Homo sapiens: one gene and its partners. The protein of the gene in region 1 purifies or fractionates together with the protein of each later gene. This does not show direct contact. Each region holds a gene or a part of one and is shown on either strand. Other genes may lie near its edges. The genes, in order: RDX, KIF11, CMAS, UCKL1, ARHGAP1, CTTN and LSR.

What was found.
Region 2: the proteins of RDX (region 1) and KIF11 purify together in Homo sapiens (affinity purification with mass spectrometry; one large-scale study listed by BioGRID and IntAct). This does not show direct contact.
Region 3: the proteins of RDX (region 1) and CMAS fractionate together in Homo sapiens (co-fractionation; one large-scale study listed by BioGRID). This does not show direct contact.
Region 4: the proteins of RDX (region 1) and UCKL1 purify together in Homo sapiens (affinity purification with mass spectrometry; one large-scale study listed by BioGRID and IntAct). This does not show direct contact.
Region 5: the proteins of RDX (region 1) and ARHGAP1 fractionate together in Homo sapiens (co-fractionation; one large-scale study listed by BioGRID). This does not show direct contact.
Region 6: the proteins of RDX (region 1) and CTTN fractionate together in Homo sapiens (co-fractionation; 2 studies listed by BioGRID). This does not show direct contact.
Region 7: the proteins of RDX (region 1) and LSR fractionate together in Homo sapiens (co-fractionation; one large-scale study listed by BioGRID). This does not show direct contact.

The regions. Positions count from the first base shown.
Region 1 is NC_000011.10:110,290,115-110,293,614, forward strand, and holds part of RDX (radixin), read right to left. Parts: intron 1-3,500. UniProt on the Homo sapiens protein: Probably plays a crucial role in the binding of the barbed end of actin filaments to the plasma membrane.
Region 2 is NC_000010.11:92,599,630-92,603,129, reverse strand, and holds part of KIF11 (kinesin-like protein KIF11), read right to left. Parts: intron 1-3,500. UniProt on the Homo sapiens protein: Motor protein required for establishing a bipolar spindle and thus contributing to chromosome congression during mitosis. Required in non-mitotic cells for transport of secretory proteins from the Golgi complex to the cell surface.
Region 3 is NC_000012.12:22,052,718-22,056,217, reverse strand, and holds part of CMAS (N-acylneuraminate cytidylyltransferase), read right to left. Parts: intron 1,070-3,500; coding exon 927-1,069; intron 764-926; coding exon 608-763; intron 1-607. UniProt on the Homo sapiens protein: Catalyzes the activation of N-acetylneuraminic acid (NeuNAc) to cytidine 5'-monophosphate N-acetylneuraminic acid (CMP-NeuNAc), a substrate required for the addition of sialic acid.
Region 4 is NC_000020.11:63,942,917-63,946,416, forward strand, and holds part of UCKL1 (uridine-cytidine kinase-like 1), read right to left. Parts: intron 3,352-3,500; coding exon 3,245-3,351; intron 3,084-3,244; coding exon of another isoform or gene 3,060-3,083; coding exon 2,889-3,059; intron 2,807-2,888; coding exon 2,735-2,806; intron 2,611-2,734; exon of another isoform or gene 2,167-2,610; intron 1,819-2,166; coding exon 1,629-1,818; intron 1,543-1,628; coding exon 1,481-1,542; intron 1,106-1,480; coding exon of another isoform or gene 950-1,105; exon of another isoform or gene 754-949; coding exon 737-753; exon of another isoform or gene 641-736; intron 1-640.
Region 5 is NC_000011.10:46,690,620-46,694,119, reverse strand, and holds part of ARHGAP1 (rho GTPase-activating protein 1), read left to right. Parts: intron 1-3,500. UniProt on the Homo sapiens protein: GTPase activator for the Rho, Rac and Cdc42 proteins, converting them to the putatively inactive GDP-bound state. Cdc42 seems to be the preferred substrate.
Region 6 is NC_000011.10:70,419,029-70,422,528, reverse strand, and holds part of CTTN (src substrate cortactin), read right to left. Parts: intron 2,784-3,500; coding exon 2,673-2,783; intron 2,130-2,672; coding exon 2,019-2,129; intron 1,060-2,018; coding exon 949-1,059; intron 21-948; coding exon of another isoform or gene 1-20.
Region 7 is NC_000019.10:35,259,002-35,262,501, reverse strand, and holds part of LSR (lipolysis-stimulated lipoprotein receptor isoform 2 precursor), read right to left. Parts: coding exon 3,438-3,500; intron 3,432-3,437; exon of another isoform or gene 2,681-3,431; intron 1,504-2,680; exon of another isoform or gene 1,100-1,503; intron 578-1,099; coding exon 521-577; intron 1-520. UniProt on the Homo sapiens protein: Probable role in the clearance of triglyceride-rich lipoprotein from blood. Binds chylomicrons, LDL and VLDL in presence of free fatty acids and allows their subsequent uptake in the cells.

The DNA of each region.
Region 1 (3,500 bases):
AGATTTAACAAAGAAAAAAAAACAGAGGAAGCAAGAAACATCCAGAACTCACAGCACAGAATACTGTGCTTAAAATGCTGCTGCAAGGAGTATTAATTAACTTATACACACTACTGTGACACTTAACAGGCCAGGTGTGGTGGCTCACGCCTGTAATCCCAGCACTTTGGGAGGCTGAGGCGGGAGGATCACTTGAACCCAGGACAGCCTGGGCAACATGGTGAGACCCCGTGTCTACAAAAAATAAAAAAGCCGGGAGTGGTGGCAAGCTCCTATAGTTCCAGCTACTTGGGAGACTGAGGTGGAGGGATCACTTCAGCCTGGGAGGTCAAGGTCACAGTGAGCTATAATCAAGCCACCGCACTCTGGCCTGGGCAACAGAGACAGTCTCAAAAAGAAAAAAAAAAAAGCACTTAACACACTTTATGAATACAATATGGCACATCTATCTGCCCATTAGAGTGAGAACTCCTGAGTATTTTACTCATCTTTCCATTCTCAAATGCAAAGAGTATGTGGCATATAATAACTGTCCAAATGTACGACTGACATCTTAAAGCAGTGGTCGGCAAACTTTTTCCGTAAAGGGCCAGGTAAGTAAACATTATAAGCTTTGTAAGCCACACAGTCTCTGTTGAAACCATTCTACTGTTGTAGCAGGAAAGCAGCCATAGATAATATGTAAACAAGTCAGCTACGATGTGTTCAAATAAAACTTTATAAAAACAGGCAGTAGGCTGGGTTTAGCCCATGGACCACAATTTGCCAAGTATTTTAACAAGAATCAACACTTTTCCTTTCATAATTTAACTGAAGTTGGTACCTACAAAGATATGAGCTCACTACATATGACTATCTGTAATGGATCAATTTTGGATATGACTTTGGGTGGGGGTAAAAAAAGGACCGAAGACATGTAATATAGATGAATAATGAAAATAACAGGGCTGGGTGCAGTTGCCTGCACTTTAGGAGGCTGAGGCAGGAGGATCACTTGAGGCCAGAAGTTTGAGACTAGCCTGGGCAACATAGTGAAACTGTATCTCTAAAAAAAATTAAAATCAGCCAAGCATGGTGGTGTGCACATGTAGTCTTAGCTACTCCAGAGGCTGAGGTGGGAGGACTGCCTGAGCCCCGGAGTTCAAAGCCCTGGAGTTCGTGGCATGGAGCTATGATCATGCCACTGTACTCCAGCAGCAGAGAGGTGACAGTGACAGAGAGAAGGAGGGAGACAGGGAAAAAGGGAGGGACGGAGGGAGGAAGGAAAAAGAAAAAAGAAGTATCTATTGGGAACAGAGTTGGAAGAAAGGGCAATTCCATTACCCTTGCCAGTTGACTGGTTAGGTATAGAATGTGCCCCAATCCTGGCCAATGAGGCTCGAAAGACATCTGCTTGGGGGTTTCTGGAAACAGTTCCTCTTATTCCTTTGGATACTGCCCTGTCTGGATGGGATGCAGCAGCCAAACTGGGACAAGGGGCTAACTGCAGGCTTGACCTCCCAGGCTCAAGTGATACCCCAACCTCAGCATTCTGAGTAGCTGGGACTACAGGTCCACACCACCGCTCCTGGCTCCTTTGCAGCAGCCAAATTGAGATGGGTAAGGGCTGTCTTAGTATGAAGTTAATAGGGAAAATCACAGGGAAGAGAGTTGGAAAGAGAAGGAGTCCTTGATGTCATTATTGAACCATTCTTGAGCCTCTGGACTTTTAGTATGCAAGACATTAAATTTTGGCCAGGCATGGTGGCTCACACCTGTAATCCTCCCAGCACTTCAGGAGGCCGAGGCAGAAAGTCCAAGGCAGGAAGTCTGAGGCAGGATGATCATTTGAGACCAGCCTGGGCAACATAGGGATACCCCGTATCTACAAAAAGGCTTTTTAAAAAATTAGTTGTTGGCCAGGCACAGTGGTTCACACCTGTAATCCCAGCACACTGGGAGGCCAAGGCGGGCAGATCACTTGAGGTCAGGAGTTTGAGACCAGCCTGGCCAACATGGTAACACCCTGTCTCTACTAAAAATACAAAAATTAGCCGGGCCTGGTGGCATGTGCCTTAAATCCCAGCTACTAGGGAAGCTGAGGCAGGAGAATCGCTTGAACCCTGGAGGCAGAGGCTGTAGTGAGCTGAGATCATGCCACTGCATTCCAGCCTGGGCAACAGAGCGAGACCCTGTCTTGGAAAAAAAAAAAAAAAATTAGCTAGGCATGGTGGCACACGCCTGTGTTGGCAGCTACTAGGGAGACTGATGTGGGAGGAACTTAAAGGATCACTTGAGCCCAGGAGGTCAAGGCTGCAGTGAGCTGTAATAGTGCCACTGCACTCCAGCTTGGGTGACAGAGGAAGACTCTGTTTTCAAAAAAAAATGAAGAAAAAAATGACATTAAATTTCCTCATTGTTTAAACCAGTTGGAGAATTTTCTGCTATTTGATGCCAATGCATCTTAAAGGATCTAAGGGCTCAAAACTGAAGAGCGCTCACTTCACAAATTTACCTGCAGTCAGTCCTAGTTGACTTAAACTTTTCACAAATAAATTAAAAAAAAAAAACATTTAAGGTCCTGAAAGCCATAGAGATTATCTACAACTCAGAAGAAAACAGTCCATTATCTCAATTACTAATAGCTTTATAAATTCTATAATCTTAGAGAAAATAAACAATGAAGTACCTGTTTCTTCAATACTGTATCTAAAATATCCTTTCAACAGGATGTTTTTTCTAAGGAGTTGGCAAACTTTTTTTGTAAAGAGCAAGATGTGGCTATTTCCCACACCAAATTATAAACCTCCTTTTTTAAAAGACACCATTTCTCATTGTCAACTATATGCCATATGCTAGAAAACAAAAAGTAAACTTCATCTTCAATCATTAATCAAGAAAATCTGTACACAAACAAATTTGCACATACACACACTTGAGAATTAGCGTAGGGAATTCTATTGTGTGCTTTTATTCAAATGATGAAAACATGAGAAATATGATTTACTCAATGTTTAACACAAGTTAATAAGCATCCTTTCAATGTCTGTTACAATATAACCCTATTTTAACAAGACTTTAAAATCACAAATAAGGGATATAAAGTATATGTTTATCCCTGCATACCTACTGGCATTTTCTATAAACAAGGAATTGCCGACAGCAGCTACCTATGGAAAACAGGACTGGGAAAGGGGCTGGGGTGTTCCAGGGAGTAAGGAGGACTTTGACCTTTTCCTTGACATTTTTCTGAGTTTTTAAACTTTGCCATAAAATATATCACTTTTATAGTTTTTTTTAAATGGCTTAAGCTATACATTCAATATAAAGATATACACCAGGAACTTAAAGTAGGAAAGGCAGGATTTCTCTAAAATAGGCTAGAAATTGAGGAACTCTCTGGGGCCAGATTGGACACCTCTATCATCAAAGCAGTACGCACACCCTGGCTGCAGCAATCAAGGAAGTTACCAGAACAGTCTTCAGCTGGATCAGTAATGCCATGAGACTTAAAATAATCT
Region 2 (3,500 bases), on another chromosome or scaffold:
GGCCCTGTAGATATTTTGGTGGAAAAAATTTTCAGGCAGAGAGAACAGAAATTGCAAAGATTCTGAAGTAAAAGCAGGTAGATGTATTTTTTAAATGTGTGTGTGAAATTAGCCAGGCGTGGTGGCAGGCGCCTGTAATCCCAGCTACTCTGGAGGCTGAGACAGGAGAATCGCTTGAACCGGGAGGCAGAGGTTGCAGTGAGCCGAGATCGCGCCATTGCACCCCAGCCTGGGCAACAAGAGCGAAACTCAGTCTCAAAACAAACAAAAAACCACACACACACACACACACACACACACACACGTGTGTGTGTGTGTGTGTTTAAGTAACCAGGGTTCAAAGACATCACAAGGAAAATTAGAAAATTTTAGAGATTAATGAAAATGAAAATACAACATACCAAAACTTACGGGACACAGCAAAAGCAGTGCTAAGGGGGAAATTTATAGCTATGAATGCTTACATTAAAAAGCAAGAAAGATCTCATATCAACACCCTAACTTTACAACTTAAGGAACTGGAAACAAAAGAACTAGTTATTTGTGTCTTCTCTCTTATTGTTGAAAGAGTATTTTCAACAATTGTATGCCAACAAATCGGATAACCCAGCTGAACAAATTCCTAGAAACACAATACTTACAAAGACTAAATCACAAAGAAATGGAAATTCTGAATGGAGCTATAACCAGTAAAGAGATGGACTCACTAACCAAAAATCTCCTGACAAAGAAAAGCCCTAGATCTGATAGTTTCATAGGTGAATTCTATAAAACATTTCAAGAAGATCTAATACCAGTTCTTCTCAATCTTTTCCCAGAAAAAATCTGGCAAAGGAGAGAACACTTCCCAACTCATTTTGTGAGGCAAGCATTACCCTGATACCAAAGCCAGACAAAGGCAACTACAAGAAAACTACAGATCACTATCCCTTATGAACACTGATAAAAAAAAATCCTCAACAAAATACCAACACATTGAACTGAGCAGCACAAGGATTATACACCATGACCAAGTGGGATTTATTCCTGGAATACAGGGATGGTCCAACATGTAAAAATTGATCAATGTAATATACCACATTAACAGAATGAAGGAAACCACAGAATCATGTCAATCGATGCAGGAAAAGCATGTGACAAAATTCAAAACCCATTAGTCATAAAAATGCTCAACAAACTAGGAATAGAGTGAAACTACCTCAACAAAATAAAAGCAACATATGAAAAACCCACAGCAAACATAATTGATGGTCAAAGACTGAAGAATGTTCCTCTAAAAACAAGAACAGGGCCAGCACAGTGGTTCATGCCTGTAATCACAGCACTATGGGAGGGTAAGAGTAGAGGATCACCCGAAGCCAGGAGTTCAGGATCAGCATGGGAAACATAGCGAGACCCCATCTCTAAAAAAAAAAAAAAAATTATTTTTTTAATTAGCTGGGTGTAGTAGTGTGTCTATAGTCCCAGCTACTCAGGAAACTGAGGCAGGAGGATCTCAAACAAACTAACAAATAAAAGAACAGGAGCAAGACAAGGATGCCCAATGCCCACTTTTGCCACTTCCATTCGACATAATACTGTAAGTTCTAGCTAGAGTAATTAGGCAAGAAAGAAAAACAAGGGCCGGGCATGGTGGCTCACGCCTGTAATCCCAGCACTTTGGAAGGCTGAGGCAGGCGGATCGCGAGGTCAGGAGATCGAGACCAGCCTGGCTAAAACGGCGAAACCCCGTCTCTACTAAAAATACGAGAAAAAAAAAAAATTAGCTGTTTATGGTGGCACATGCCTGTAGTACAAGCTACTCGGAAGGCTGAGGCAGGAGAATCGTTTGAACCCAGGAGGCGTAGGTTGCAGTGAGCAGAGATTGCACCACTGCATTCCAGCCTGGGCAACAGAGCGAGACTCCATCTCAAAAAAAAAAGGAAGAAAAATAAAAATAAAAGGCATCCAAATTGAAAAGGAAAAGGTTGAGGGCCAAGAGCGGTGGCTCATGCCTGTAATCCCAGCACTTTGGGAGGCCAAGGCGGATGGATCACGAGGTCAGGAGTTCAAGACCAGCCTAGCCAAGATGATGAACTCCCATCTCTACTAAAAATACAAAAATTAGCTGGGCGTGGTGGCATGTGCATGTAATCCCAGCTACTTGGGAGGCTGAGGCAGAGAACTGCTTGAACCCAGGAGGCAGAGGTAACAGTAAGCAGAGATGGCGCCACCGCGCTCCAGCCTGGGCGACAGAGCGAGACTCCATCTCAAAAAAAGAAAAAAAGAAAGAAAAGGAAAAAGTAAAATTATCTGTCTGCAGATTATATGATCTTTTATATAGAAAATCTGGCCGGGCGTGGTGGCTCACACCTATAATCCCAGTACTTCAGGAACCCCAAGGGGACTTGAGGTCAGGAGTTTGAGACCAGCCTTGCCAACATAGTGAAACCCTGTCTCTACTAAAACTACAAAAACTTAGCTAGGCATGGGCGCATGCCTGTAGTCCCAGCTACTCGGGAGGCTGAGGCAGGAGAATCGCTTGAACCCAGGAGGCAGAGGTTGCAATGAGCCAAGATTGTGCCACTGCACTCCAGCCTGGTGACAGAGCGAGAGTCTGTCTCAAAAGAAAAAAAAATAGAAAAGAAAGAAAACCCTAAAATTCAGTGGGGCAAAAGGAGCTAGAGCATCAAGAAGAATAGCTAGTGGATGCTGGGCTTAATAGCTAGGTGATGGGTTGATCTGTGCAGCAAACTGTGATGGCACAGGTTTACCTATGTGATAAACCTGCACATCATGCACATGTACCCCAGAACTTAAAAGTTGATGAAAAAAATAATAAAAATAAGGCCAAGTGCAGTGGCTCACGCCTGTAATCCCAACACTTTGGGAGGCCGAAGCGGGCGGATCACGAGGTCAGGAGTTCAAGACCAGCCTGACCAACATGATGAAACCCTATCTCTACTAAAAATACAAAAATTGGCCGGGCATGGTGGCGAGCGCCTATAATCCCAGCTACTCCGGAGGCTGAGGCACAGAATTGCTTGAACCCGGGAGGCGGAGGTTGCAGTGAGCCGAGATCACACCACTGCACTCCCGCCTGGGCAACAGACCGAGATTTCATCTCAAAAAATAATAAATAAATAAATAATAATAATAATAATAAACAGAAGTTCAATAGTTAATTAAAAAAAAAAAAAAGCCAGGCACAGTGGCTCACGGCTGTAATCCCAGAACTTTGGGAGGCTGAGGCAGGTGGATCACGAGGTCAAGAGATCGAGACCATCCTGGCCAACATGGTGAAACCCCGTCTCTACTAAAAATACAAAAATTAGCTGGGCGTCGTAGCGTGTGCCTGTAGTCCCAGCTACTCGGGAGGCTGAGGCAGGAGAATTGCTTGAACCTGGGAGGTAGAGGTTGCAGTGAGCCGAGATCGCGCCACTGCACTCCAGCCTGGCAACAAAGCGAGACTCCATCTCAAAAAAAAAAAAAGAAAAGAAAACTCTAAAATTACACACACA
Region 3 (3,500 bases), on another chromosome or scaffold:
ATGACCTTTTTTTAAAATGGATAAAAAAATGGAAAATTTCAACAGAAAATGGAATCCCTACGAAACAACTAAAATGTACATTACTGAATGGAAAAACACAGTGTTTATAATAATTCTCTGGATAAGATTTATAGCACACTGGACATGGCAGGCAAAATGCCTAGTAAACCCTAGGGAACCCTTCTTATATATGGAGTTAGGAATTTGGGGAAGAACTTCAAAATGTCATTCTTGAAATCCTTCAGAACACTTTGGTGGATGCTTTCTATCTCTATATGACTTGTATGGAGTTCATCAAACATGTCTAGAACAAACATAAAAGTATTTGATCTAGAAAAACAGCATATCTGCCTCAAAAGGCAAACAGAAATAAGAGGATTAGAATGTCCCTTTGTAAAGAGTAAAGCAAAGAATTAATTTGGTCTAGCTGTGTTGGCTCGATAACAGATTTACAGCTGATTGTAAATGTCATTACCTACTAAAGTAATGAGTCAAATACTCTCTTTTACAGCTCCCCTTTTACTCTCCTCATGCCTAAAGGATATTTATATACAAAAAAATTGATTCTCAATAAAATCAGCTAAAATAAAGACTGAAAAGAGATTACCTCCTTTCTGAATTTCACTCCATCGAAACTGATGGCGTCTCACAACAGAGAAAACAGAATCATATCCTTCTTCTCGAATCATTTCTGCAACTTTTTGAAGATCAGTAGGATGTAAACATGGAGAAGTAGCTTGAATATTTCCTACAATGTCAACCTCTTAAAAAGACAAGAGAAATGAAAAGGATATTTAAAAAAAAAGTTCCTTGCAAGCAAGTAATATTAAGGTTTGGAATTCAAATGTTAAAACAAGTCTTATAAGATAATAAAGGAAGTAGAAAAGTACATAAAGGTTTGAATAAACTATTAATCAAATTCATACCATTATGATAATTAAGAAATTCTATGATGGCATCTAGTGAGGTAGAGCTGTCTTTTGAAACTTCAGAACTTCTTCGATGAACTTGTGCACCAAATTGTTTGGCCACATTCTCAATTTCATCATGGTCTGTCGAAACCCATACACTGTTCAGATATCAAAAGAAATTAACAGCCAAATCAAAAGAAATCATTAACAATAAAATGGAGCTCTGTAACCATAAAATACAGCTTATATAATGTGAGAATATTTTTTGCACAATGATAATAATGTTACAGATCCAAAGGAGTATAAAATGTAAGAAATTATAAAGTATTTTGTATATAAATATATTAATGAATAAAAATGCAGTCCTAGATATGCTTTATATAAAGAAAGGAACAACAGACACTGGGGCCTACTTGAGGGTAGAGGGTGGGAGGAGGGTGAGGATCAAAAAACTACCTATCAGGTACTATGCTTACTACCTGAATGACGAAATAATCTGTACACCGAACCCCTGCAACATGCAACTTACCTCTGTAACAAGCCTGATGTACCCCTGAACCTAAAATAAACGTTTTTAAAAAGGCACTAGAAGTCAAATCTAAAGAAAATTAAAGATCTTGCTTATTCTCCATCCAAATCCAAAATATTGTATAAAATATTTTAATATGCTTGCTAAAAAAAAAAAAATGGACTTGGCTTAGCCAAACCCTAAAGGTGAAACAGTTTCAAGCTTAGAAGATAATAAATGCCCAAGTCTGGGCTCAAAAAAAATCAGATGAAACAACTCTTTCTTTTTTAAACAACAAACAATGGGTATATAGATGTAGAATCAGCTGGGTTATAGCCATTGATAACAACAAACATGAAGAACATGACTTCATTAGCTCAAAAGAATTTAACTTAATACTCTATTAACCGCAGGTTACACAGTTGCCTATTTAGCCTTTACAAAATGATGAGTAGGCAAAATGCTGTTTTGGAGAGGGGTACCAGTTTCTATTGAAGTTTTGTTTCCTGGACAGTCACAAATTCCCACTGCTAAATGCAGAAGATGTAAATACTACTCTAGCCACAATGTTTGGTCAGGCCTGGAGTCTCACACCTGTAATCCCAACACTTTGGGAAGCCGAGGCGGGTGGATCACCTGAGGTCACGAGATGGAGACCAGCCTGGCCAACACGGTGAAACCCGGACTCTACTAAACATACAAAAATTAGCTGGGCATGGTGATGCACACCTGTAATCCCAGCTACTAGGGAGGCTGAGACAGGAGGATCGCTTGAACCTGGGAGGCAGAGGTTGCAGTGAGCCGAGATCGCGCCACTGCACTCCAGCCTGAGAGACACAGCGAGACCCTGTCTCAAAAAAAAAGACAAAAAACAACAACAAAACCCTGCCATGTTTTTTTGTTTTGTTTTGTTTTGTTTTGAGACGGAGTCTCGCTGTGTCTCCCAGGTTGGAGTGCAGTGGCGCGATCTCGGCTCACTGCAAGCTCCGCCTCCCAGGTTCATGCCATTCTCCTGCCTCAGCCTCCCAAGTAGCTGGGACTACAGGCGCCCGCCAACACGCCCGGCTAATTTTTTGTATTTTTAGTAGAAACGGGGTTTCACCGTGTTAGCCAAGATGGTCTCGATCTCCTGACCTCGTGATCCGCCCGTCTCGGCCTCCCAAAGTGCTAGGATTACAGGCGTGAGCCACCGTGCCCGGCCCCCACCATGTTTTAATAGTGATTTATGCAAAGATATCTTAATGACTTATAGTCTTTGGTGTATGTGTGTGTATATATATATATATATTTGGTGTGTATATATATATATACACACACAAACATATATACACATTATTTTATATACATACAAAATTATATATAACGTGTATATATAATGTGTATATATAATGTGTATATGTGTGTGTGTATATGTATACATATACACACACACATATATATTTTTCCTTTTATCCCACTCTTTCGATATCTACTGAGGGAAAGATGAACTGCATGTTTTGTTTGTTTTTTTGACAGAGTCTTGCTCTGTCACCCAGGCTGGAGTACAGTGGCCCATTATCTGCTCACTGCAACCTCCACCTCCCAGGTTCAAGCGATTCTCATGCCTTAGGCTCCTGAGTAGCTGGGATTAGATTACAGGCATGTGTCACCACGCCCGACCAATTTTTAGTAAAGATGGGGTTTTGCCATGTTGGCCAGGATGGTCTCAAACTCCTGACCTCAAGTGACCCTCCCACCTCAGCCTCCCAAAATGCTAGGATTACAGGTGTAAGCCACCACGCTCGGCTGAACTGCATGTTTGTCTATGCTCAATTATCATGAGTGGAAAGAAAGTGAAAAACTAAAGAAAATCTTCTAACATCCCTGGATTTCATTTATTTATTTCGTTTATTCCCTTTAATATTTATAGAGGGATTTAAATCAAGGGATAAAGTCAGTAAGAAAAAATAATCAAAGAAAGCCTAGCAAACAAGATGAGCCACTGGCTAGGGGTCAAGAATCCCGTGATATCTACTTATGTCACTCTATGCAGGGCGAACGCAGGAGCCCCCATTTTCCTCCATCTTGAAATCTGAAATAGT
Region 4 (3,500 bases), on another chromosome or scaffold:
GGACGGGCCCTGGAGGCATTTCCAACATTTGGCAAACTCTTTGGAGGGCTCTGAATGTGAGGGCTCTCCCTCCAGGTGGCTCAGTCAGGAGCCTCCCAACCCACAGAAGGCAGGGAGAAGGGCAGGTCCCTTGTGGCTGACCCCCCTGCATGCCTGCCCTTGGGGAGGGACAGTGGGATGCGGCCCCGGCCCAGCCCAAGCTTCTTGCTGCAGTTGCCCAGTTCCTGCTGGCAGAGCTGTGCGGGCTGCGAGGACAGAGCTGGGGCAAGCAGGACCCGGGTGGGTGGGAGGACAGGCGCGAGGCCCTCCACCTGCAACCAGGGAAAGCTGACTGGTCCGTGAGGCTGGGCACAGGAGGTACAGCAGGCTCCCTGGCTGCTGGGACATGTCTGTAGTCACTGCCCCAGAGGCCTGGCAGTGCTGGCTCAGGAGGACAGCTGTGCTCTCTGGGGTCAAATCCCATAGACAGACTCAGGAGTCAGGGGAGCCTCCAGCAAAGTCTGGCCAGGACAGGGTCAGGACTCCGTGACGCTGGGCAAGCTACTTCACGTCTCTGTGCCTCAGTGTCCTCATCTGCCAGCAAGGGGAGGCAGAAGCAGGGCTGGGACCACTCCACACCACCCCTTCTGTGACTGGGGAAGAGCCAGCTGCCTGGCTGGATCACAGCCCAGACCCCAGAGCTCCTTGGAGGTGTTGGAAGTGCCTCCATCTGTGCAGACAGCTGTGCAAGTCTTACCTGACGCTGAGTTCACGCTGTGGCAGCAACACAGGAAGACACAAGGGAACGGTGGCGCGTCAGTGACCAGGGCAGGCGGCCAGGCCACCCCCACCCAGGAATGGACATGCTGCAGGCCCGCGGGGACACAGCCAGCCATGGGGGGTGGCAAGCTTCTAATGCCTGTAACCTGGGGACCACCTGGGCCAGACCTGCAGTTCTGCGTTGGGGCAATCAGAGCCAGGACCCTGGGCTCTGTTCTGCAGGCCTCAGGCCTTCAACATCCTGGTAGGGAGTGTGTTCAGAGCCACTCAGGCTCCAAGGCCCAGCCATAGAATGCCTCAGGGAGCAGGGGACCTCTGGTGGGGGTGTCGCTCCTGGGGTGACCCCCTGAGAAAGAGAGGAGCCTGGCCTGGCGTGGGACTCAGCAGTGAAACCCCACAATCCTGGGCCAGCAGGTCATGCCTGTCTTCCCAAAAGCTCAGGCTGGGTGTGCTGAGCGGGCTGCACCCTCGGCTGGGTCCTGAGCACCTGTACCCCCACCCCAGCTTCCTCAGGGAACCCAGGCCCTGCACAGCACAACGGGATGGGGTCTGGGCTGGACAATCTGACTGGCCAAGCAGGCTCAGGACACTCAGGGCTGGCACCTGGCAGGGGACAGTGAACGCAGGGGGATGAGGTGACCAGGCCACTGGGGGTGGTGGCAGCGGAGAAGTGGGTAGAGGGGCTGGGGGCTAGGCCGTGGGGACGTGGGACCCCGCTCACCTCCTCCAGCTGGCTGTGCACGTGCTGCACAATCAGGTCGATGGCCACCGTGTTGCCGCTCCCTGGGGCGGGATGGGGGGGCGGGTGACCGGGGGCTGGGCCGTTGGCCTGCCCGACACCCACCCAACAGGCAGCCCAGCAGGCTCACCTCTGGGGACCACGATGTCTGCCAGGCGCATGGTGGGCTGGATGTACTGGTCGAAGGAGGGCTTGACAAACTTGTTGTACTGCTTGATGACACCCTCGATGTCCCGGCCGCGCTCACTGATGTCCCGGCGCAGCCGCCGTACCAGGCGGATGTCGGAGTCTGTGTCCACAAAGATCTTCATGTCCAGGAGCTGGTGGAGACAGCGGGCCAGTGAGTGGCCAGATGCCAGCAGTGGGCATGGAGACACTGGGACCAGCCCCTGCACTGAGGCCGCCTGGTCCGTGGGCCTGGCCAGAGCCACTTCCCCAGGGCACCCTGGCAGGTGGGGAGGAGTGGGGAGGTGGGGGTGTCTGCACCTGGTCCGTGGGCCTGGCCCGAGCCACTTCCCCAGGGCACCCTGGCAGGTGGGAAGGAGTGGGGAGGTGGGGGTGTCTGGGGATGCGGTGCTGCCCGTCAGGGGCTTAGGTGAAGAGGCATGGCATGGTGGCTGGCTAAGGAATCAGGCAGGAATGGGGCTGGGCACATGTGATCTCCTTACTTTGCTTGGGGTAACTTGCACCAACACACTGGGGAATGGGGGACGTGGCGAGTTTAGGGTCTGTCCCCATGCTCAGCACACAGTAGTTGGCCCGTGAAGAGGCCTTGTGGAGGCTGGGGGCTGCTATGTGCCGGATGATGGAGTCCTCTGGGCCTGTACAAGGGGCAGGACCTGGGCCCTGGGATCAGGCCAACCTGAGTCACACTCAGCTGTGTCCTGAAGGCCCCCTTGAGCTACAGCAAAATCTCTCAAACACACCAGCCCTGGGTCCTCACCTGTCCGTCAGGACCACGGCAAGGGACGAGAACGCCAAGGACACTCCAGGTATGCGCACAGGCCTCAGCCGGTGGAGAGGAACCACTGCCTCAGGCAGCCACGCTCTGCCTTTTGGGGCCGGCAGATGGACCCAGCTGTGGCATGCCTGGGGTTGGGGTTGGGGTAGGGAGTGGCTGGCCTAGGCCTATACAGTGTGGAGGCCTTGGGGACAGGGCAGGAGGACGCACACCTCATGGACAGGGCGGCCAGGGCTGAGATACCAGCGGGGTGGGTATTCCCGGCGGGTGCTTACCTCCAACAGTGTCTTGTCAGCAAAGGCCATGATGCCCTCAAAGATGATGACGTTTGCACCATACAGTGTTTTCTGTGAAGAAACCCAGGAGTTGCGGAGCCTGGCTCATGTGCCTGCAGCCCCCCGAGGCCCCCTCTGCAGGGCCCTGGCCTACCCAGTCCTTCTTCCGGCTGTGCGTGGTGAAGTCATAAATGGGCACCTTGACACTCTTCCCCTGCTTCAGCTTCTTGAGGGTGGAAATGATGAGGTCGAAGTCAAAGGCATCTGGGTGGTCGAAGTTGAAGTTGTTGTGTGCGGCCTGTTCCTGCTGCTGCTCAGTCAGCACCTGGTGGGGGAGGCTGTGGAGCAGCTGTGGGCACAGTAGGGCCCTCACCCAATGCCAGCGGACAGGGGCTCTAGGCCTCCCAGGAGCAGCCACGCTGGGGCTGAGACCAGGGACCTACTTTTGCAGGGGGTCCAGGGTCAGGGAGAGGACAAAGGGGTCCTCGGGGGAGCTGGGCGGGGGCCCACCTTGTAGAAGGAGTCCATGGACAGCAAGACCACCCAGGGCACATCCAGGGCCTCGATGATCATTCTGGCCACAGTGGTCTTCCCAGAGGCACTGCCGCCTCCCAAGCCTGCCGGCGGGAGTGGAGACCCTCTGTGAGGAACAGGCAGGCTGCCGGCACAGATAGGTCCCAGAGGTGCCCATCCCGCTGCCGCTGCCTGCGGTTGCCCGGCTTCCTTCTCCTGCTCCACAGGCACTGGAGGGGAGCCGGAGGCAGGC
Region 5 (3,500 bases), about 64 Mb from region 1:
TGTGCCTCCCTGATTGCTGAGAGGAGGCTGGATTGGCATCACCAGGCACTCATTTGGTGAGACCGTGGAGATGTCCGGGAGAAGCCCTTGTAGGAAGGGAGGGTGGGTTATAGCCTCAGCTCTCCCTGCCGGGAATAGTTGTCATGCCCCAGGGTCAGATTTGGCTCAGTCCCAGTGGGTTCTTTCCAGTGGTGTGCTGGTAAATGGCTCTCTGGAGAGGGGGAAAAAGGCCATGATTTGTAGCATTTGCAGTTTCTGCCTCCCAGCTCTCTAGCTACCAACATGATGTCAACTGGCTTGCAAAATTCCTGACAGTTGAACAGCTTAACAAATGTGTGAGCTGGCTGTAGCACATGACTGGCTCCATCAGCCCAGCCCTACCTCCCAGGTCCCAGGCCTGCTGGTCCGGTTGTGGGTGGGGCTGGTTTGAGGGGGCCCAGAATGCCTGGGGAGACCTGTTGGTGATTAACTCCAGGGCCACCCTGGAGTTAGGACCAGCCTGGGCAACATAGTGAAACCCTGTCTCTACAAAAATAATAACAATAAATTAGCCAGGTGTGGTAGCCTGTGCCTGTAGTCCTAGCTACTTGGGAGGCTGAGGTGGGAGGATCCTTTCAGTCCAGGAGTTGGAGGCTGCAGTGAGCTATGATTGAACCACTGCACTCCAGCCTGGGTGATAGAGCAAGATCCTGGCTCAAAGAAAAAAAAAAAAGATTACAGTCTAGTGAAGTGGTTCTTAAAACTGGTCACAGTCCACTTTGCAACTATGAAAGGTATCCCCAGGATAGGGGGGATCTCTTTGACTGAAAAAAAAAAAAAGTGCAGCCAGGTGCGGTGGCTCACACCTAGTAATCCCAGCACTTTGGGAAGCCAAGGCTGGTGGATCACGAGGTCAGGAGTTCGAGACCAGCCTGATGAACACGGAGAAACCCCGTCTCTACTAAAAATACAAAATTAGCTGGGGTTAAGGCCAGGCGCGGTGGCTCATCCCTATAATCCCAGCATTTTGGGAGGCCGAGGCGGGCGGATCATGAGGTCAGGAGATCGAGACCATCCTGGCTAACACAGTGAAACCCCGTCTCTACTAAAAATACAAAAAATTTTCTGGGCGTGGTGGCGGGCGCCTGTAGTCCCAGCTACTCAGGAGCCTGAGGCAGGAGAATAGCGTGAACCCGGGAGGCGGAGCTTGCAGTGAGCGGAGATCGTGCCACTGCACTCCAGCCTGGGCAACAGAGCGAGACGCCGTCTCAAAAAAAAAAAAAAAATTAGCTGGGTGTGGTGGTGCATGCCTGTAATCCCAGCTACTCAGGAGGCTGAGGCAGGAGAATCGTTTGAACCCAGGAGGTAGAGGTTGCAGTGAGCTGAGATCACGCCACTTCACTTCAGCCTGAGCGACAGAGCGAGACTGTCTCAAAAAAAAAAAGTGCACATGCTTGTAATATTTGTCATATAACATCATGGAGGTGCTGTGTCTGCTGAGCACATTGGTGGAGCCCTGGTTCAGAACCCAAAGCTTCCCACTTACAAAGTGCTGTGGCCAGCTGAGAGGAGACACCACAGGCCTCCAGCCCTCCCCCCAACAGCTTCCCTAACCAGTTGCTACCTCTTATATTTTAGACCCAGGGGCCTCACAGACTTTCTGCCCTGGCTGAATCCTCAAATCTGCCAGCCAATGAGGCCTGCCTTGCTGCTGGTGCAGATGTGAGGTGCGGGGACTCATGGGCTGGAAGGAAAGATCCTTTTGGTAGCCCCCATTGTCCTCGAGCATTTCCCCCAAATCCTGGTTATTTCCTCGCTTAGAAGGAGGTAGGCAGATGAGGCCCCCTCTTCCCAGGCTGGTGGTAGGCATCTCTGGGGTTTCTGAAGCTCCAGACTAGTGAGACTGGGCTTGCCAGTCTAACCCTTTGTCCCTGGCCCCTGCCAGTCTGCTTTTCCTTCCACTGTCAGAGCCAGTGGGAAGTGAATCAGAGCAGGCACATAGCCCCAGAGCCACCCCCAGCTGGCCTCCGGGATCTCAGCACCTCAGGATCTAGGCTAGGGTACGAAAGAGAGCAGGTACCACCTGGTCCTTCAAAACAGACCTGCCGGGATGGAGCTGCACCTCCTCTGCAGACAAGCTGGTAGAGGATTCTCTACTTGCAAATCTGGAGACGTTCTGTCCTGAGCTTTGGGAAACTCACTATCTGAAGCAGTCTGACCCATAACCAAAGCATAATCAAGAACAAACACAGAGGCCAGGTGCTGTGGCTCATGCCTATAATCCCAATACTTTGGGAGGCTGAGGCGTGCAGATCATCTGAGGTCAGGAGTTGGAGACCAGCCTGGCTAACATGGTGAAACCCTGTCTCTACTAAAATACAAAAATTAAGGCTGGGCATGGTGGCTCACACCTGTAATCATAGCATTTTGGGAGGCTGAGGCGAGCAGATCACCTGAGGTCGGGAGTTTGAGACCAGCCTGACAAACATGGTGAAACCCCGTCTCTACTAAAAATACAAAAATTAGCTGGGTGTGGTGGGACATGCCTGTAGTCCTAGCTACTCAGGATGCTGGGGCAGGAGAATCACTTGAACCCGGGACGCAAAGGTTGCAGTGAGCCGAGATCGCGCCATTGCACTCCAGCCTGGGTAACGAGCAAAACTCCATCTCAAAAAAAAAAAAAAAAAAATTAGCCTGGTGTGCTGGCACCTGCCTGTAGTCCCTGCTACTTGGGAGGCTGAGGCAGGAGAATCTCTTGAACTTAGGAGGTGGTGGTTGCAGTGAGCCCAGATCACTCCACAGCACTCCAGCCTGGATGATAGAGACTCCATCTCAGAAAAAAAAGAAGAACAAACACAGAAATATAACTAGAACCAGGCATCCCATAGTTTAATGGTGACCTGCGATTTTGTGCAGGCTACCAAAACGTATTGAATACCTGCCACATGCCAGACACTGGACCAGTACTGGAGACTGTAGGTGCCATGGTACGCAACTGTAATCCCAGCTACTGGAAAGCTGAGGCAGGAGTTCAAGACTAGCCTGGGCAACATAACAAGATTCTGTCTCAAAAAATTGTTTTTAATTAAGCAGGTGGGATGGCATGTGCCTGTAGTCCTAGCTACTCAGGACATGGGAGGCTAAAGCAGGAGGATTGTTTGAGCCCAGGAGTTCAAGGCTGCAGTGAGCTACAGTTATGCCACTGCACTTCAGCCTGGGTGACAGAGCAAGACCCTGTCTCTTAAAAAAAAAAAAATCACAGCTTGCCAGGAGTAAACAAAGAAAAAGAACAAACAAAGACAATGAGACACAGCCTCTGTCTTTGAGCTGCTCACAAGCCTGTCAGGGAGACAGGTACATAAACAATTCTACAGGAGAGTGAAGGGTCAGGACAGTGATGGGTGACGGTTTATGCTGGGAGCCATGAAAAGGGGCAGCTAACCTGTCTGGGGAGAGAGGGCGAGGACACAGGATTCCAGGCGGCGATTATGCCTGCATTGAGTCTTAAGGGTTGGTGGGGG
Region 6 (3,500 bases), about 40 Mb from region 1:
AATCGCAGTTTGTTCTCTTGCTTTTTAAGAGAAAAAAAAAATCCATGTGGAAATTCTACCAGCCAAAGACTTCCGTTGCAGCAACACAGATCCACATGAAAGTCACACTGTCATGCAGCAGTGATGCCACGGAGAGCCACTGCCATCTCCATGCAGTCTGCGGGACCACCCCAGGTGTGTCTACCTGCCCACACCTGAACACTGCTGTGTGTTTCTAACGCTGCAGGTGGAAAGCCTAGAGTCTTCCCTGCAAGGTTAGGGAATTACTGTTTTTCCAATTATGTGTTCAGGTTCTAATAACCAAGTCCAAATTTTGAAGGTAACAACATAACTGCTCTAAGGAAGGATGCAGAGCTGGCTTCACGTACATACTGTGTGGCTCTGTGTGGAGATGTTACACACATATGGTGTCATCAAACAGAACAAACAAAAAACCTCCCAACCCCGGCCAAAAACACCACCACAAATGAAACACAGAAACCACACAGAACACGCCTGTCTCCTGGCCCTTGCTGCTACGAAGCCCCTGGTCAAATGGCCAGTGGTTTGGTTGAACCAACACCTCTCTCCTCATCTGGAAGGCCTGACTCAGTGGCTCACGGCAGTCACCAATAACAGCAGAACAGCCTCGGGCAGAATGCTGCTGGAGACCGGAGATGCCCCAGTCCAGAGACTGGATGGGTCACCGGGTTAGAAAGATGGCACCCACACACTAACTGGCGCATCCTGCCATACACAGATCACAAGTTCACAGGGAAGAAAGTGAACCACTCAAAATCAGTGTCGCTCTACTAGAAATGGGTTTAAAGTGCCGAACAGCCTGACAGCTGACAAGTGGTGACACAGGAGGACTGTGTTGCAGGTGCTGACGGTGAGCCCTGAAGTCTGTGCTAGAAGTGGCCGCACAGGAGGGTCGGGGGGAGGGTAGGAGGCTGGTGGCAACTGTGCCTTGCTGGGACTCGTGCTTGGCCAGCTTCTCCTTGTAATCAAACCCCACAGCAGCGGAGTCCTGCCTCTCCGACTGAACACCGAATTTGCCTCCAAAACCAGTCTTATAATCTGAAAATCCACAAGCAACGGTGGGGAAAACAACCAAAAGAGGAAACACAGTTGGGTTAGAATTGCATGAGCATGCGCAAAAATCAAACACAGTTTCCAGAAAGCAAGGGCTCTCCTGAGCTTAGGGCCTTTGAGATCCTACTCCCAGGCTCAGCGCCAGAAGGTGGCTCCAGAGGTCAACGTTAAAGAATGAACTTAAAATCTGAACATTCAGCGAAGATCTGGAACAGCCTAAGAACTGTACTTCAAATAATTCAGTAAAGGCACTCCCGGCTGTGCAGTTCATTCTTAGCGTCCTACGCACACTGCAGACGAGTGTGCGTATCTGTGTACACGGGAGGAGAGACCCTGCAGATTCGGAGGGCGCTGCAGCCCCATTAGCCCCGCTCCTGCTTCTCTCAGGGCTGGGTCACACTGAGAGGCTTTCAGCCCCCTCAGGCTCCTTTTTCCAGGGAAGGGGCACCCATTCCAACAAGAAAACACTTTCGGTTCAAAAGTAAGTATCTCCTGCCAAAAACCGTGGCCCACTTTATAGACAAGAAGCCTGGATGAGGAGCACTGCAGGCTTGGCCCATGTCCCCACTCCCGGGTAAACCCAGCCCCCCGCTGCAGGCCTGACACATGCCCCCACTCCCGGGTAAACCCAGCCCCCCGCTGCAGGCTTGACCCATGTCCCCACTCCTGGGTAAACCCAGCCCCCTGCTGCAGGCTTGGCCCGTGCAACCCACTTCCAGGTAAACCCAGCTCTCTGGGGTACCACCCCGTGTCAGCAGGGAGGGTTTGTGACTACACTAGCTGGAGGGAACTGGGGGATTGGGGGGGCACACAGGACAACTTCAAACAGTGAAGACAAAACAATGTGCAGCAGGCACACGCAGACACAACACATACCAACTGACCCCGCAAGGAACAAAAACAAACTTCTAAAACCATCTCGCATACAGGCAGAGTGAATGTACCTTTTTGGGATTCATGCAGCTGCAATTTCTCCTGGTGATCCCAGCCAAGGGCACATTTGTCTTGTCTGTCTGTCTGCACACCAAATTTTCCTCCAAACCCTTTCACATAGTCTACATGCACAATGAAAGGCCAGAACCCATCATTAACAGGTAGTGCAGGTCACAGGTGGAAAGTATGTTTTCAATACAGTTAAACGCATATGATTCACTCAATCTACTCTTCCCTTCCGGATCTTTGGTAATACTTTAGATAACATCCATGAAGAGGCCCTCCTTGGAGAGTGGCAGGAAATAACCTAGTCTATGACCTCAGCATCGTGACTAAGCCAGACAGGACCCCATGGAAGCTCCCACGCATGCGGCTTCCACCCGCACCATGAGACAGCACAGGCTCACACGGGCAACACAGACGTGCGGGGTGTGGCCACCACGATAAGCAACGCCGCTGGGGCTGGAGCGCCATAACACTCAAGCTGCGAGTTCCTATTTAGCAGCTGTGTTTCTGGATGTGCCGTTTTCAAGTTGGGCATTTCATGAAAAAGAGACATCTACGTTAAGGGCTATCAATAACGCTTTGTTTTTCCTTTTCCGGTGTGGCTACCACCTGTCACATTACTAGCTGCTGGCTGGAGGGTAAGATAAAACGGAAGACACCTTTCTGGGACTCGTGCTTCTCCGTTTTGCCTTGATACTCAAAGCCAACGGCGCTCTTATCCACTTTGTCCTTGTCGATACCGTATTTGCCGCCGAAACCTTTGGAGTAATCTAAAAACAAACAAAAAAGGACTACTTTAAAAGGAGCAACGAAATCAGTGAACATGCAAGTATTTTATCCTTTGATTAAAAAAACAAAAATCTTTCAGGTCCACTGTAGGACCACTGAATAATACAGACAGTATTTAAAGGTGCTATTTATGTGTAATAACAGAAACACAAACAGTGGTAACCAGAGGTGGGGGTGTGTGCCTGCAGCCCAGCTACTCAGGAGGCTGAGAAGGGAGGATCACTTGAGCCCAGGAGGCGGAGTCCAGCCTGAGCAACATAGCAAGACCCCATCTCTAAGTTAAATCATTAGCTAATATTTTAAAAATTCAAAAAACAGGCTGGGGGAGGGGGCTCACGCCTGTAATCACAGCACTTTGGGAGGTCGAGGTGGGTGGATCACCTGAGGTCAGGGGTTTAAGTCCAGCCTGACCAACATTATGAAACCCCATCTCTACTAAAAATACAAAATTAGCTGGGCGTGGTGGCCCACACCTGTAATCCCAGCTACTCGGGAGGCTGAGGCAGAAGAATCACTGGAACCCAGGAGGTGAAGGTTGCAGTGAGCCGAGATTGCGCCACTGCACTCCAGCCTGAGCAACAAGAGTGAAACTCCATCTCAAAAAAAAAAAAAGAATTAAGAAAAAAAGTTTTTTTTTTTAAAGTACAGCAGAGGCTGGACACAGTGGCTCACACCTGTAATCCCAGCACTTTGGGAGG
Region 7 (3,500 bases), on another chromosome or scaffold:
ACAGGGCTAACGGCACAGCAGGGGTACATGGTGCGGAGCCAGCACTGAGGTCGGGGACGATTTGCAAAGCTCACCAAGGAACCTGCAGCCCTGGCTGGATTTTTTGTGCCAGAGGCTGGGCACAGCACACTCCCCATTCTACCATCCCGGCCATTCCCCAGTTACGGCCCTCCCCCAGGTGCAAAAAACACAAGGCAGAAAACGAGGCAGCCTGCACAGAGGGAGACAGACTGCAGCCCCCAGACCAAAGAGAGAGCCAGCTGCCCAGACGCCACACCCTCAAGAGCACCGCAGGTGCCAGTCACAGAGCCCTGGCCTGCACCCCAGGCTCTCCTCAGCCCAGCCTAGCCTAGGCCCAGCGCCAGACCACTAGATGCCTCAGAGCCACAGTCAGGCCAGGTTAGTGAGGGGTCCACAGTGAGCAGGGTTTAGTGGGGAAGGGGATACTAACTAGAGTCAGAAGCAGTAGGTGATGTATGGGAGCTCCCGAGAAGCCCAACTCAGGATCCACCCCCCGTACCTTCTATGGGCCCCGCCTGAAAACCAGGTAAGAGCTCAGCCACCCCTGAGGTCCTCCCTGGAGGGACAAAAGAGAAACAGATTATGCTGGCCAGAGCCAGCCCAGGCTGTGCCACCCCCGAAAGCCCAGCTCCAGGCTGGCCAAGTGCAAGGTGTGCCCTGAAGCGGGAAGGGGCTGGGGGCTGAAGCCCTAGTGCATGGCTCCTACCCTCCACCCGCCCACATGTGGGTGCTTATAGGTAAGAAACTCCCATTGCATAATCCACCTGTGTTATGCCACGAGGGCTCCAATACAAATCCCAGGGGGTTCTGAGGGCTCTACCTCAGCTTGGGCACCCTAAGTTTCCCTCATTCATAGGTCTTAGCACCCCAAAGGGCTCCAACCACGGTGATAGGGATGTCCTGTTCCAGCAGGCACAGGGACCTAGGGCCCACGAAATAGGATCTCAGCTCTGTCGCCCAGTCTGGAGTGCAGGGGTGTGATCATGGCTCACTGCAGCTTCAACCTCGTGGGCTCAGGCGATCCTCCCACCTCAGCCTCTGGGGTAAGTAGCTAGGGCTACAGGCATGTGTCACCACACCTGGCTGAAATGGTTTAATTTTACTTTACAAATCTGAACACAAATTAACACAATATACAGGAATAAACTCTTTGTGACAACATAATCACACATTTTTTTTAAAACAGGAAGGGACCCATGAAGGCAAAAATACCCACATATGAAAGTCATATGCAGTCCTGGTTCTGGGACCCACAAGGTCTCCATCTCTACTCATGCACTGTCACATTCACGCATCTCAGAGCCGGTTCTTGTCTTCCCTCGAGTGCCCCTGGAGCTCTGAGCCCCACCAGTGTTGTGTCTGAGGGGCCTCCACAGGCCCAGCTCTGCACCCACGAAGCCCTCCCCAGAGCTCATGCACTTGGCACTATAGGCCCTCGCAACAGGACAGAGGCATGTCAGTCACAGCTCTCAAAGCGTGGTCCTGTCCACAAGGCCAAAAGAAGAAATTTTAGAATAACACTAAGATGTTATTTGCCTTTTTCACTTGTTCTCCCATGAATGTCCAGTAGAGTTTCCCAGGCTCCCTGATGCCATCATCGCCCTGATGCCTAATGGACTATATGCGTGTGTGTGTGTGTGTGTGTGTTTGTGTTTCTTGAGCCAGGGTCTCTGTCACTCATGCTAGAGTGCAGTAGCATAGTCACGGCTCACTGCAGCCTTGACCTCCTGGGTGCAAGCGATACTCCTGCCTCAGCCTCCCAAGAAGCTGGGCTCACAGGTGCATGCCACCATGCCTGGTTAATTTTAAAATTTTTTGTAGAGTCAGGGTCTTGCCATGTTGCCCAGTCTTCCTTGTGTATCTTGGGCTTGAAAAATCTCCCCATTTTAAGGCCGGGCAGTGGCTCATGCCTGTAATCCCAGCACTTTGGGAGGCCCAGGTGGGTGGATCACGAGGTCAGGAGATCGAGACCATCCTGGCTAACATGGTGAAACCCAGTCTCTACTAAAAATACAAAAAAAATTAGCCGGGTGTGGTGGCGGGTGCCTGTAGTCCCAGCTACCTGGGAGGCTGAGGCAGGAGAATGGCGTGAACCCAGGAGGTGAAGCTTGCAGTGAGCCGAGATCGAGCCACTGCACTCCAGCCTGGGCGACAGAACGAGACTCCATCTCAAAAAAAAAAAAAAAAAAGGAAAATCTCCCCATTTTAATTCCTAATATGTTAAGCAACAGATAGACATAAAACCCACAGAAACAAACAAAAGCTCTTGGAGACCCTCGATAATGTTTTAGAGTGTAAATAGACCTGGAGACTAATTTTGGGAACTGCTGATGCAAATGGTGCATTTTACCGAAGAACAGGCAGAGGTTCCTGGGTCACTGGTGCACGTGTTCCATCCCCCACACATGAACTCTGTCTTGCAGCCCAAGTACCCCCCAGTCACGTGCTCATTCACACATGTGAAGATGGCAGTGTACAGCCCAGCGGCATCACTCATGCAGAGCACATGTCATACAAGACTCCATGTGTTGGCTTACAGCAGGGCACCTGGCCGATGGCAACATCCCCCTAACACAAGGAGGCCTCCCAGCCACACGGACACCCCGCCCTGCCCCTGGGTGTCTGGAATCGGCTTCGTTTCAGCTGCACTCAAACTTACACAGTGTGTGTGCCATGCAGCGCCATCCCAGCAGGGCACACGGCAAAACCGCTGTGCTTTGGCGAGGGACTCGGGTGAGATGAGGCCTTGGGGATGTAGCAAGAGGTGGGTCGATTTTGCACACCATCAACTGTCCTCATTCACTGCCCATGGACTCTGACCACGTCTGGATTTTTTTTTTTTTTGGACAGAGTCTCACTCTGTCGCCCAGGCTGGAGTGCAGTGGCTTGATCTTGGCTTACTGCATCCTCTGCCTCCCAGGTTCAAGCAATCCTCATGCCTCAGCCTTCTGAGTAACTGGGATTACAGGCATGTGCACCACCACGCCTGGCTTTTATATTTTTTATAGAGACGGGATTTTGCCACGTTGGCCAGGCTAGTCTCGAACTCCTGGCCTCAAGTGATCCACCCGCCTCGGCCTCCCAAAGTGCTGGGATTACAGGCATGAACTACCGCACCCGGACCCCAAGTCTGGATTTTTTTTAAAAATGAGACTTTGAAAAGGCAGAGTCTCCAATTGTCTCCACTCTTCTCTTAGTTTGGCTTGGGTGATTGGAGGCACTGTGGGCCAGTGGTCCCTGCCTGGGGTGCAGGGCACAGGGGAGCCTAAGTGACTGGCAGAGCCTGGGGGAGAGCAGAGCAGGCGACAGAGCCCAGAGGGTAAGCTGGAGGGCAGAGGGCGGACACAGGGGAGGGCAGACAGAACAGAAGCGGACAAAAGGAAGGGCCATGCCTCCCCCTTCCCAGGCCCACTCACCAAGGACGATGAGCTCTGCGTAGGCCTCATTGTTCCCCTGGAGGTCCTGGGCTGAGACCACGG